Regions from separate parts of the Homo sapiens genome. Here region 2 is linked to region 1. Evidence: fine-mapped expression QTL. A gene starts in region 1. The other region holds a variant in brackets. All regions are shown on one strand. Distances are between the middles of the regions.

Region 1 (5,478 bases):
AATGGCCCTTCATGGCAGGGACAGAAAGGTGGACTGGGGGCCATTTGCTTCCTGTGGCCTTCAGCAGACCAGGCCCTGTCCCTACCTGGAGCCTCACCTCCAAGGAAATTCATGTTCTCCTTAATGGAAAAAAAAAAAAAAAGACTACCATCTGCAACTCAGAGTAGGTGTTGCAGTTTCCTGTACAGCAGTTTGGACCTCCAGAGCACAGCCTCTTGTCCCTACTCCAGAGCATGGTTCAGTCTTAATAGCAGTTCAAGAGCTTCTCTGATAAAGGTTTCTTTTTAAACATTTGTGTGAACGGTAGCAACCTGACACCTATTTCACCCTCATACAATGCAGATGGTATTGAACATACCCTGACATGCCATCAGCGTTTGTCATCATCACAGAAGTTCCTGGACTTGGCTTCAACCTGGGTACCCTCAAGAGGCCACAGAGTAGAGATACAGCCTGTCTGCAGCCCAGGGAGGGAGTGGGATACCTGTATCCTTTTCAGGGTCAGAGGTGGGTTGGGGTAGCCAGGAGCTGGATGAACTGGGATAGAGTGGGGCTGTCTGGAGCAGCAGCCCTGCTAGATGAGTCCTGGTGGATCCTGGCAATGGGAGGATGGTAGGTGGAGAAACCAAGGCAGGGCTGTGTTCCTTCTGCTGCTGAGATAGAGGGTGTGGCCATGTGTGATGACCCTGCAAGGTTGACTCCAACCAGTGGGCACTCCATCCCATGGCTTCCAAAATCCTGCAGCTATCCTGCCCTATACACAAAGAGCCCAGATCCAGGCCCCACACACTTGATATTGGGGCCAGACTCTTCCACCTGTGAAACCTCACAGGTTCCTGCAGGGAGTGGAGACACACAGAACCTAGCTCCCCTGGAGCCTGCAAGACTTGGGCCACCAGAATCCCAGTAGGTCCCTGAACCATTGTCCCCCAGTAAGTCTGCAGAGCTGTGAAATGCAGACAATAACCCTTCCCTGCCTGAAAGAGCACTTTTCTGGGGAGCCCATGGGAGTCAGGAGCAAAAGCATCTGTCAAACAAGTAGATACCCAGAGAGTCACGTGAAATCATTTCTATGCCTCTGACAGACGCTTCTTGAGCGAAGTTTCTGCCCTGAGCCCGCCTGACCCCTTAGGCTGGGCTCAGTACCCTACCTTGTCTTCCCACCAGCCGCCTCCCTCCATCAAGTTCCTTTCCACGTCTGCTTGTGCCCCTGTTGTCCCTCAGTTTGTCCACCCTCCTCCAATCTTCCCCTCCCCAAACCCATGACTGATCAGTGGCCCCCAACCTAGGCTCCCACCTCCATGCAGGTCTTGGCCCCTCGGCTGACCTCCCTCCAACCTCCCCCTCTGCTCTTAATTTTGAATAGGTAGTGACTGTAAAAGTATCCCTGGGCTTCTATGTCAAAAGGTCAGACTGAACACATGCATCTCACTGGGCTCAGAAATCCACTGAAACCACAGAGGGGAGTATTTAAAACACATAACCCACAAGTATGAGGATGGTGACAGAGGAGTCAGGAGCAATGGCATTCCTAAGCTAGAAGTGGGTGAGAGCTGTCACTAAGTTAGGGAAGGCAAAATACTACGTGGCGACTTGGCGAAGAGGAGAGAGTTCCCACCAGGCTGACTCCAGAACCGCAGAAGGCTGAGAACCAGCAGCCCAGAGACGGGAGACCTATATCAAAGCTGCCTGGGGAACAACTACTGAAGAAGCCCTTAACGCCCCAGTGCTCTCCCCACATGGTGGAGGGTGAAAGTTTTTGTTTTTTTTTCCTTCTGGGACTCTGCATAGTCCCAGAGAAAAGGCCTAAGCACCTCATCCCCAAAAACAACCTGAGGAGGCCGTTGGAAAGCTCCGAGTTGACAAGTCTCATCCACGCACATGCTCGGTGCTTCCAATCGGTGATCAAGACCACTGCTCTTCATCCAGAGCAGGCAGCAGGGATTCCCAGGTATCCAAAGAAACCAAAACAGGCGGTGTAATTTAGGACTGACTAAGTAATGGCTCGGCCACTTTTAAGTGTGGAAGCAAAACTGACCCCACAGATTTAGAAAACTGTAACACTGCTTATTGGGAGAAACTAGTGTCACCCTGGCTAGTTCTGCTCCCCAAATTCAAAGGTAAATAAACGGTTGAGCATGTCCGATCAGCCTGGAGGGAAACCTCCACCCCCGACTTTGTAGGACTGACATCTGAAGACGTCAGAGACTGCGGTCACAACCGTCGGTACCTCCTTAGGGCGCTTAACAGAGGTCAAAGATGGCCCTCGCACCCTCCTGGCGGGAGAAAGCCCAGGCTCAGGGTGGTCTTCTACACCACCGCCTCTCCCGGGTCCACTTGGAAGCGAGTCCCAGCGAACTACTCGACCTAGGAAACCACTGGGCCGCCACTTCCAGCCTCTTCGGAAGTCGAGGCAACGCTCCTGAACGTTGCCACGGGAACAGCTGGAGGCGGGCGGATATGCCCTAGCGTTATCTAGGGGCTGGCCCGGGGAATGGCGTGGGGGCGGCGGGGCCAAGCAAGCGCCACCTCTGATTGGGCAAAACCCCCTCCCCTCACCTGCCAATAGAAACCGGCCCACTGTACAGACGCGCAAGTTTATAACCCGGGAAGAGCTGCTCTCAGAGCGGAGGGAGACCATATAACCCTGGGACTCTGCCGTACCTCCTAGAGGAACAGAGCGCCTCTCAGGCGTCAGAGGCTGCTGCAAATGCGGGTCAGCGGGTCACGGTCGCGCCTGTCTTGCTGATGCTCATGGGAAATGTAGTTCAAAGGGCATGGGCGGTGCCTTCGGTGCAGGCGAGAGATTGGTCAGCGCGGCGTCGCCGGGGCAACACCCGGCTGAGGCGCCCCGCGTTGTGCGGCGCCACATCCGGGAAGCGGCCTCCAAGCAACCGCTCCGGGTTGAGGTGAGCGCAGGCTGCCAGAGTGGGCGCAGCCTTTCCACCCCGTGGGAGGGCTTGGGGTCGCCCTCTGGGGCCTGAACGGCTCCTGCTGTCGGCGCCCTGGAGGGCCCGCCCACTTCCCGACAGGCCGCGCGCGTCACCTCAGCCTTCGCTCAGGCCTTTCCTACCCTCAACGCCGTTCCGGGGGGCCGGGCCTGGCAAGTCCTCTTGGAACGCCTCCCTCTTGCCTTCCCCTTTTGGGGACAGATCCCGAAGTTCGAGCATCCCTCGGATAGGCCGGGTGTCAGGCCTGGTCTCTCAGGCCCGTCCAGGTGGGCGTCTTTCACTGCAGACCTTCAGGGCCGGGATGCTGTGGCCATCCCTCGACTCCGCGCAACGTGGAGCTTTGGCCCCGTTTTTCTTGGCCTTTGCTTTTCGTTTTCACATGCACGGGCCCCGGCAGTGTGAGTCGCCCACGGCTCGCTGTGGTCAGCGAGCACGATGTCCACGTGCCCCCTCCCCAGAGCCATTCCTAAAGGAGGTCCCACCCAGTCAACCTCCCCGAGATTGTGGAGGGCGACTCGTCCCCGTACATTACAGCCTGGCCCCACCTTCTACCCGCCCACCCTGGTCCACTCTCCTCGCACCTCGGCTAGACACTGTGGCTCCTCAGCCTGGCGCTGGAACTCTGTGATGACTGTCTTTCTCCACCTCTTTAGCGTCATCTCCCAGCAGTCCCCTGCTGGACCCAACTGTTTGCAATTTCCAGGAAGCTCCCTGGACACCTTGCGTCCAAGCATTTGTCCCTGAGGCTTCCTCCTGCTCTCATTTGCCATCATTGTTTGGGTCCTGTGACCCTCCTCCTTCCATGAAGCTTTCTTGGCCTTATCTCTTCTGGCCTCAGAGTACACTTGGTCCTGGTCTCAGCCCCCTGGGCTGAGCCTGGTGTCTGCCTTCCCCTGGCCAGATTCTCTTGGCTGACATTCCGACCCTTCCTTTTCTGTAGGCCCATCTTGACGATTCCAAGACCACCCCCTTGAGCAAGAATGCCATCCCCTCTGGGTCCCCCATGCCTGCCCGTCATGGACCCAGAGACCACCCTTGAGGAGCCTGAGACTGCCCGCCTCCGCTTCCGAGGGTTCTGCTACCAGGAGGTGGCAGGTCCCCGAGAAGCCCTGGCCCGGCTGCGTGAGCTGTGTTGCCAGTGGCTGCAGCCTGAGGCACACTCCAAGGAGCAGATGCTGGAGATGCTGGTGCTGGAGCAGTTCCTGGGCACACTGCCTCCCGAGATCCAGGCCTGGGTGCGCGGTCAGCGGCCAGGCAGTCCTGAGGAGGCCGCTGCCCTAGTCGAAGGACTGCAGCATGACCCTGGGCAACTGTTGGGCTGGGTGAGTGTGGCTGGCATCAGCTTCTTGGAGGGATAGACCCTGGCTAGAGCCATTGTGACCTACCTCTTCTCCTCAGATCACAGCCCATGTCCTGAAGCAGGAGGTGCTCCCTGCAGCCCAGAAGACAGAGGAACCACTTGGGAGCCCCCACCCCTCAGGGACAGTGGAGTCCCCTGGGGAAGGTCCCCAGGACACCAGAATAGAGGGGTCTGTCCAGCTCAGCTGCAGTGTGAAGGAGGAGCCCAATGTCGATGGACAGGAAGTGGGTGAGGTTGGGGTCCCACCAGAGATGAGGGACTCCTGGAGGAAGTGTGGACATTCCTGGCTAGGGTGGGAGTCCCAGGAGAGGTGTGTCAAGGCTGGGACTCCTGAAGTGAATGTGGATGTCCCTGTCTGGGATGGGGACCTGGGAGGCAGGAGCCAAGGGCTGGCTACGTGCCATGTCACACAGCAGAGGAGCTCCTCATCTGCCATGGCTCATGTGGGCAGCCCCTGACACCACCCTTCCATCTGCCCCACTTTTCAGCACCCTCCAGCCCTCCACTTGCAGCACAGTCCCCTGAGGGGAACCATGGACACCAAGAACCAGCCTCCACATCCTTCCACCCACCCAGGATTCAGGTGAGCAGCCCCAAGTGGGAAGTATAGGCCCCAGGTGTGAGAAGGGACTGTCCCCATGGCTGCCCTCTGCCTGGTGGTTTTCCAGGCTCCTTGACTAGTGGCTCTTTGCTTCCCAGAAGTGGAGTCTGTAAAAGCTGTACCCCTCCACAGGACCTGGGGCAGAGGGACAGACTGGTGATCTATTATTGAAAAGGATTTGGGGCTGGACATGGTGGCTTACACCTGTAATCCTAGCACTTTGGGAGGCTGAGGTGAGCGGATCACCTGAGGTCAGGAGCTCGAGACCAGCCTGACCAATGTGGTGAAACCCTGTATCTACTAAAGATACAAAAATTAGCCAGAAGTGGTGGCAGGCGCCTGTAATCCCAGCTACTAGGGAGGGTGAGGCAGGACAATTGCTTGAACCCAGGAGGCAGAGGATGCAGTGAGCCGAGATTGTGCCACTGCGCTCCAGCCTGGTCAACAAGAGCAAAATTGTGTGTCAAAAACAAAAAAAAAAAAAAGGATTTGGGCCTCAAGCCATGGAAACCCAGTTTAGAGTGGCTGGAACTAGTGGGCTTGGCTTCCTCACCTCCAGAGAAGTC
Region 2 (5,257 bases), 26 kb after region 1:
CCCTCCGCACCTGGCACGCACACGCCATACACGTTAACCTGTTGCAAGAAGTCCACCTGCGACAACACGCCCTCCACCTCGTGCGTGGACACGTTCTCGCCCTTCCATCTGCAAGGAGGGAGCCGGCGCTTGTGACCACGCCCCCGGGAAGGAGAGGCCCCGCCTCTTGCCCCCGCCCCGCCCCTTTTGGGGATCAGGAGGCCCAGTCAGCCCCGCCCCCTCGAAAATCGAGAAGCCCCGCCTTCGCGTGAGAAGTCCTGACTCCAAGTTCCGCCCTCTTACGACAGGAAAGTCCCGCCTCTTCAGCCTGACTCCCTCTAGGATCTGAAAGCGTCCGTGGCCCCGCGCCAGCCCCGCCCCGAGAAACCCTGCCTCGGACCGGAAGGTGTCCCCGAGGCGGTCGCGGAAGTAGAGGAAGCCTTCGCGGTCCATGGCCAGTACGTCCCCGGTGTTGTAGTAAACGTCGCCCGATTGCCGCACGTTGCGCACCAGCTTCCGTTCCGACAGCTCTCGGGGGCCGCGGTAGCCCACGAAGGGTTGCTGGCTTACCACCTTGGTCAGCAGCAGCCCCGGCTCCCCTGGGGTAGGAGCAGGAACAAGAACCCCTGGAGCCCACCAGCCAAGCCCCCTGCTGGAGGTTTTCAACAACGGTGGACTCTTCATCACCCAGCACCCTGCCAAGGACAGACCCAAAGACACAGACAGGGAGATCCAGAGATGAGAGAGACATTCAGAGACCTTGAGAGACTGCGACAAGCGACACAGAAAATGAGAGAGAAGTATAGAGAAGGCGGTATGGGGAGCCCATGAGAAACAGGAAAAGGATAACAAGGGATGGAAGACGGACAGACAAATGGCAGTGAGAATAGATATGACCAGGACCTTGCAAGGCCCTGGGAGAAGACACTAACAGAAGGTACAGGACAAGGGACCAATGGCTGGAATGCCGTCTTCCACAGAAAGCTCAAGAGAACAAATCAGATGGACACCCAGAGACCCAGTAAATCAGAGCAAGAGATCAAGGCAGGGGAGCTGGACAGAGCCGAGAAGCTGAGGCGGAGGCCCCAGATGGTGGTAAGGCAGGCCACTGGCTCAGGGTCCAGATGAAGGCTGCAGACCCCTCTAGTGAGCACCAACGTCAAGCTTTTGAGCAGCTCGTTCCAGCCAAGCAGAAGACTGAGGGTCGCCACCCCTGCCACCCAGGAAAGGCTCCTCAACCCCCATACCTAGCCCTACAGGGATGCAGAAGCCCTGATTGTCCCTCACAGGCTCCGCCGCCTCCATGTCGAACTGCACCAGCTCAAAGGGGGACAGCATCTGGGGTGGAGGGTGGAGTGTTGACATAGGTCCTGTGGGCTCAGCCTCAGGGCAGCTGCACACCAGGTACCCGCACACTCACTCGGAGGAGGCAGCTCATCTTGCCCAGGGCCCCGCAGCGCCCCACATAGTTGACTAAGCCCATGTTGCCTTCTGTGGAGCCGTAGACTTCCCAGATCCGAATAGGACCGAAGCGCTGCTGGAAGGTCTCCCACACATCAGCCCGTAGTCCATTGCCCATTGCCAGGCGGACTGTATGTGTCCGGTCCTCTGGTTGCTACAGGAATGTCCCCAGAAGGGTGAGGAGGAGGTGCTCTTGGGGCATGCCTTGGAACCTTTACCTAGAGGGGGTGTTATCCTGGGTCCTTACCTTGGGAGTTACCTGGAAGGTGATGGGGGACCTCTACCTAAGGGATCTACCTGGGTTACTTACATGAGAGTAGTTACTGGAGTCTTAAATAGAGGGTTACCTGCAGGGGCGACCTCAGAGCTTTGCCTGGGGGACGTTACCAGAGGTGACTGGAGGCCTCATCTGGGGTCTCACCTAAGAGTAGTTACCTAGAACTTTAATTTAATGGAAATTTAATTTTAATTAATTAATTTTTAATGGAAATTCTCATGATAGGGGTAGGGGCTATTATCCCTGTTTTCCAAATGAGGACACTGAGGCTCAAGGTAGCACAGCTATCAAAGAAACCATTATTGGAAGCCTTGTCTGAAACTCATTATCTGGGGTTCTTGCATGAGGTGTATTATCTGAGGGACTTGAGTTCAGTACCTGAATCTTTACCTGAGACCTTTACCTGGGATTTCATACTTGGGTGTTCACCATGGAGCCCTAATCTTAGAGCCTCACCTGGGGAATGTTACACAAGTACCGCAGGAGCTCGCCCACATACAGGATCACTGTCACGCCATGCTGCCGACAGTCATCCCAGAAGCAGGAAGTAGAGAACTTGGGGGCCAGAACACAGGTGGCTCCTGGGAGATGACAGGAGAGGGGGTTTCAGGTCATGCTTCCAAATTGTTGTAAGAAGCTGCTTTTAGCACCTGTGCTCACCCACCCCCACACCCTGAAATACAGGACAATACTGAGTTCATCTTTGTGTCCTTGGCCCAGCCAGGACTGCTCTCACTAGAAGAGCATAGGCAGGCCTGGGTTCAAATCCTGTCTCCAGGATGCCGGGAAAGCTCCGTGCCTGTTATAAAGTGAGCAATGCTAAATAAGGGCTGTAAATATTAAATTTTTTATTTTTATTTTTGAGACGGAGTCT[C/T]GCTCTGTTGCCCAGGCTGGAGTGCAGTGGTGCAATCTCCGCTCACTGCAACCTCTCCCTCCCGGGTTCAAGCGATTCTCCTGCCTCAGCTTTCTGAGTTGCTGGGATTACAAGCACCCGCCACCACAGCTGGCTAATTTTTGTACTTTTTTAAGTACAGACGGGGTTTCACCATGTTGGCCAGGCTGGTCTTGAACTCCTGACCTTTCAGGTGATCCACCCGCCTCGGCCTCCAAAGTGCTGTGATTACAGGCATGAGCCTCTGTGCCCAGCCACATTTTTAATTTTTATTTTGGCTTGTCACTGACTCGAAGCTCAAATCACTCTTGATTACGATAAATGAATGCCCAGCTAAGCAGATGGGTGGGCAGGTGGATGGATATGGTGGATGGATGGAAAGATGAATGGATGGACAGTTAGAGTAGTGAGTGAGTAGATGGGTGGGTGGACAGAGTAGTGAGTGAGTAGATGGATGGGTGAACAGTTAGAGTAGTGAGTGAGTAGATGGATGGGTGGACAGTTAGAGTAGTGAGTGAGTAGATGGATGGGTGACAGAGTAGTGAGTGAGTAGATGGATGGGTGAACAGTTAGAGTAGTGAGTGAGAAGATGGATGGGTGAACAGTTAGAGTAGTGAGTGAGTGGATGGATGGGTGGACAGTTAGAGTAGTGAGTGAGTAGATGGATGGGTGGACAGAGTAGTGAGTGAGAAGATGGATGTGTGGACAGTTAGAGTAGTGAGTGAGAAGATGGATGGGTGAACAGAGTAGTGAGTGAGTAGATGGATGGGTGAACAGTTACAGTAGTGAGTGAGAAGATGGATGGGTGAACAGTTAGAGTAGTGAGTGAGTGGATGGATGGGTGGACAGTTAGAGTAGTGAGTGAGTAGATGGATGGGTGGACAGAGTAGTGAGTGAGAAGATGGATGTGTGGACAGAGTAGTGAGTGAGAAGATGGATGGGTGAACAGTTAGAGTAGTGAGTGAGTAGATGGATGGGTGGACAGTTAGAGTAGTGAGTGAGTAGATGGATGGGTGGACAGTTAGAGTAGTGAGTGAGTAGATGGATGGGTGGACAGTTAGAGTAGTGAGTGAGTAGATGGATGGCTGGACAGTTAGAGTAGTGAGTGAGTAGATGGATGGGTGGACAGTTAGAGTAGTGAGTGAGTAGATGGATGGCTGGACAGTGACATGCAGAGGCAGGGGGGTAGAAAGATGGATAGGTGGCTGGGTGAGGATCGTCACGCCTGTAATCCCAGGACTTAGGGAGGCCGAGGTGGGCGGATCACGAGGTCAGGAGATCAAGACCATCCTGGCTAACACGGTGAAACCCGTCTCTACTGAAAATACAAAAAATTAGCTGGGCGTGGTAGCGGGCGCCTGTAGTCCCAGCTACTCGGGAGGCTGAGGCAGGAGAATGGCGTGAACCTGGGAGGCGGAGCTTGCAGTGAGCCGAGATAGCGCCACTGCACTCCAGCCTGGGCGACAGAGTGAGACTCTGTCTTAAAAAAAAAAAAAAAGAAAAAGAGAAAGATGGATAGGTGTAAGGATGGATAGATGGGTGGGTGGATGAATGAATGAATGAGTGAGGAAGTAGGTGAGTAGGTAGATGGGTGGGTTGGTGAATGTTTGTATGGTTGTATTGACGTATGGACACATGGATTAATAAGATATAGGGGGCTGGGCGTGGTGGCTCACACCTGTTATCCCAACACTTTGGGAGGCTGAGGGGGGTGGATCACCTGAAAGATCAGGAGTTTGAGACCAGCCTAGCCAACATGGTGAAACCCTATCTCTACCAAAAAATGCAAAAATTAGCCAGGCGTGGTGGCGCACACCTGTAGTCCCAGCTACTCGGGAGGCTGAGGTGGAAGAATCGCTTGAACCCAGGAGGGGGAGGCTGTAGTGAGCCGAGCTTACACCACTGCACTCCAGCCTGGGTGACAGAGTGAGACCCTGTCTCAAAAGAAAAAGAAAAAAACTGAATCTAACAACACCTCTAGTTAAAGTTTCCAATTTAACAAGAAATGCAGATGAAAGGGGAACAGAGACCTACAAGCAAATACAATGGGGAGACTGTTTAATTGTTAAAAACAAACAAACAAACAAACAAACAAAAAAACAGCCAATTGGCTGGGCACAGTAGCTCACACCTGTAATCTCAGCACTTTGGGAGGCCAACGTGTTCAGATCACTTGAGGCCAGAAGTTCAAGACCAGACTGGCCAACAGGGCGAAACCCTGTCTTTACTAAAAATACAAAAAAATTAGCTGGGCATGGTGGTCCACACCTGTAATCACAACTGCTCAGGAGGATGAGGCATGAGAATCGTTTGAACCCAGGAGGCAGAGGTTGTAGTGAGCCAACATCACACAACTGTACTCCAGCCTGGGTGACAAAGCAAGACTCTGTCTCTAAAAACAAAACCAAACCAAAACAGCCCATTGGAGAAATCTGAACATAGACTGGACATCATATGATATTAAGGGGTTACATCATATGATATTAAGGACATCATATGATATTAATGTTGTTACGTGTAATAATCACTTTGGTTACAGTTTCTTCAGTGCTTATATGTTAGAGATATGTACTGCAATATTTACAAGCATAAAGATGCAGTGTCTAGGATTTGCTCTGATATATTCTGGAAAAAAATAGGGAAGTGGC

What was found. PIP is the estimated chance that this variant, and not a neighbour inherited with it, causes the effect.
Region 2: its variant is the best candidate, but not a certain one, in a credible set for the expression of ZNF446 in whole blood (TOPMed, PIP 0.51).

The regions. Positions count from the first base shown.
Region 1 is chr19:58,473,288-58,478,765 of GRCh38, forward strand. ZNF446 (zinc finger protein 446) reads left to right here and starts at 3,065. Exons shown (of 7, transcript NM_017908.4): 1 at 3,065-3,217; 2 at 3,892-4,273; 3 at 4,350-4,539; 4 at 4,800-4,894. The coding sequence starts at 3,932. It overlaps ZNF324 (zinc finger protein 324), which reads left to right. Exons shown (of 4, transcript NM_014347.3): 4 at 1-2,149. RefSeq lists enhancers at 2,154-2,243, 2,304-2,363, 2,604-2,853, 2,675-2,969, 3,124-3,323.
Region 2 is chr19:58,499,113-58,504,369 of GRCh38, forward strand. It overlaps SLC27A5 (solute carrier family 27 member 5), which reads right to left. Exons shown (of 10, transcript NM_012254.3): 4 at 2,174-2,298; 5 at 1,400-1,594; 6 at 1,227-1,317; 7 at 380-578; 8 at 11-108. It overlaps LOC105372485 (a long non-coding RNA gene), which reads left to right and starts at 399. Exons shown (of 2, transcript XR_001754024.2): 1 at 399-1,616. RefSeq lists enhancers at 447-506, 567-776. The variant C/T (reference allele first, on the strand shown) is at 2,592.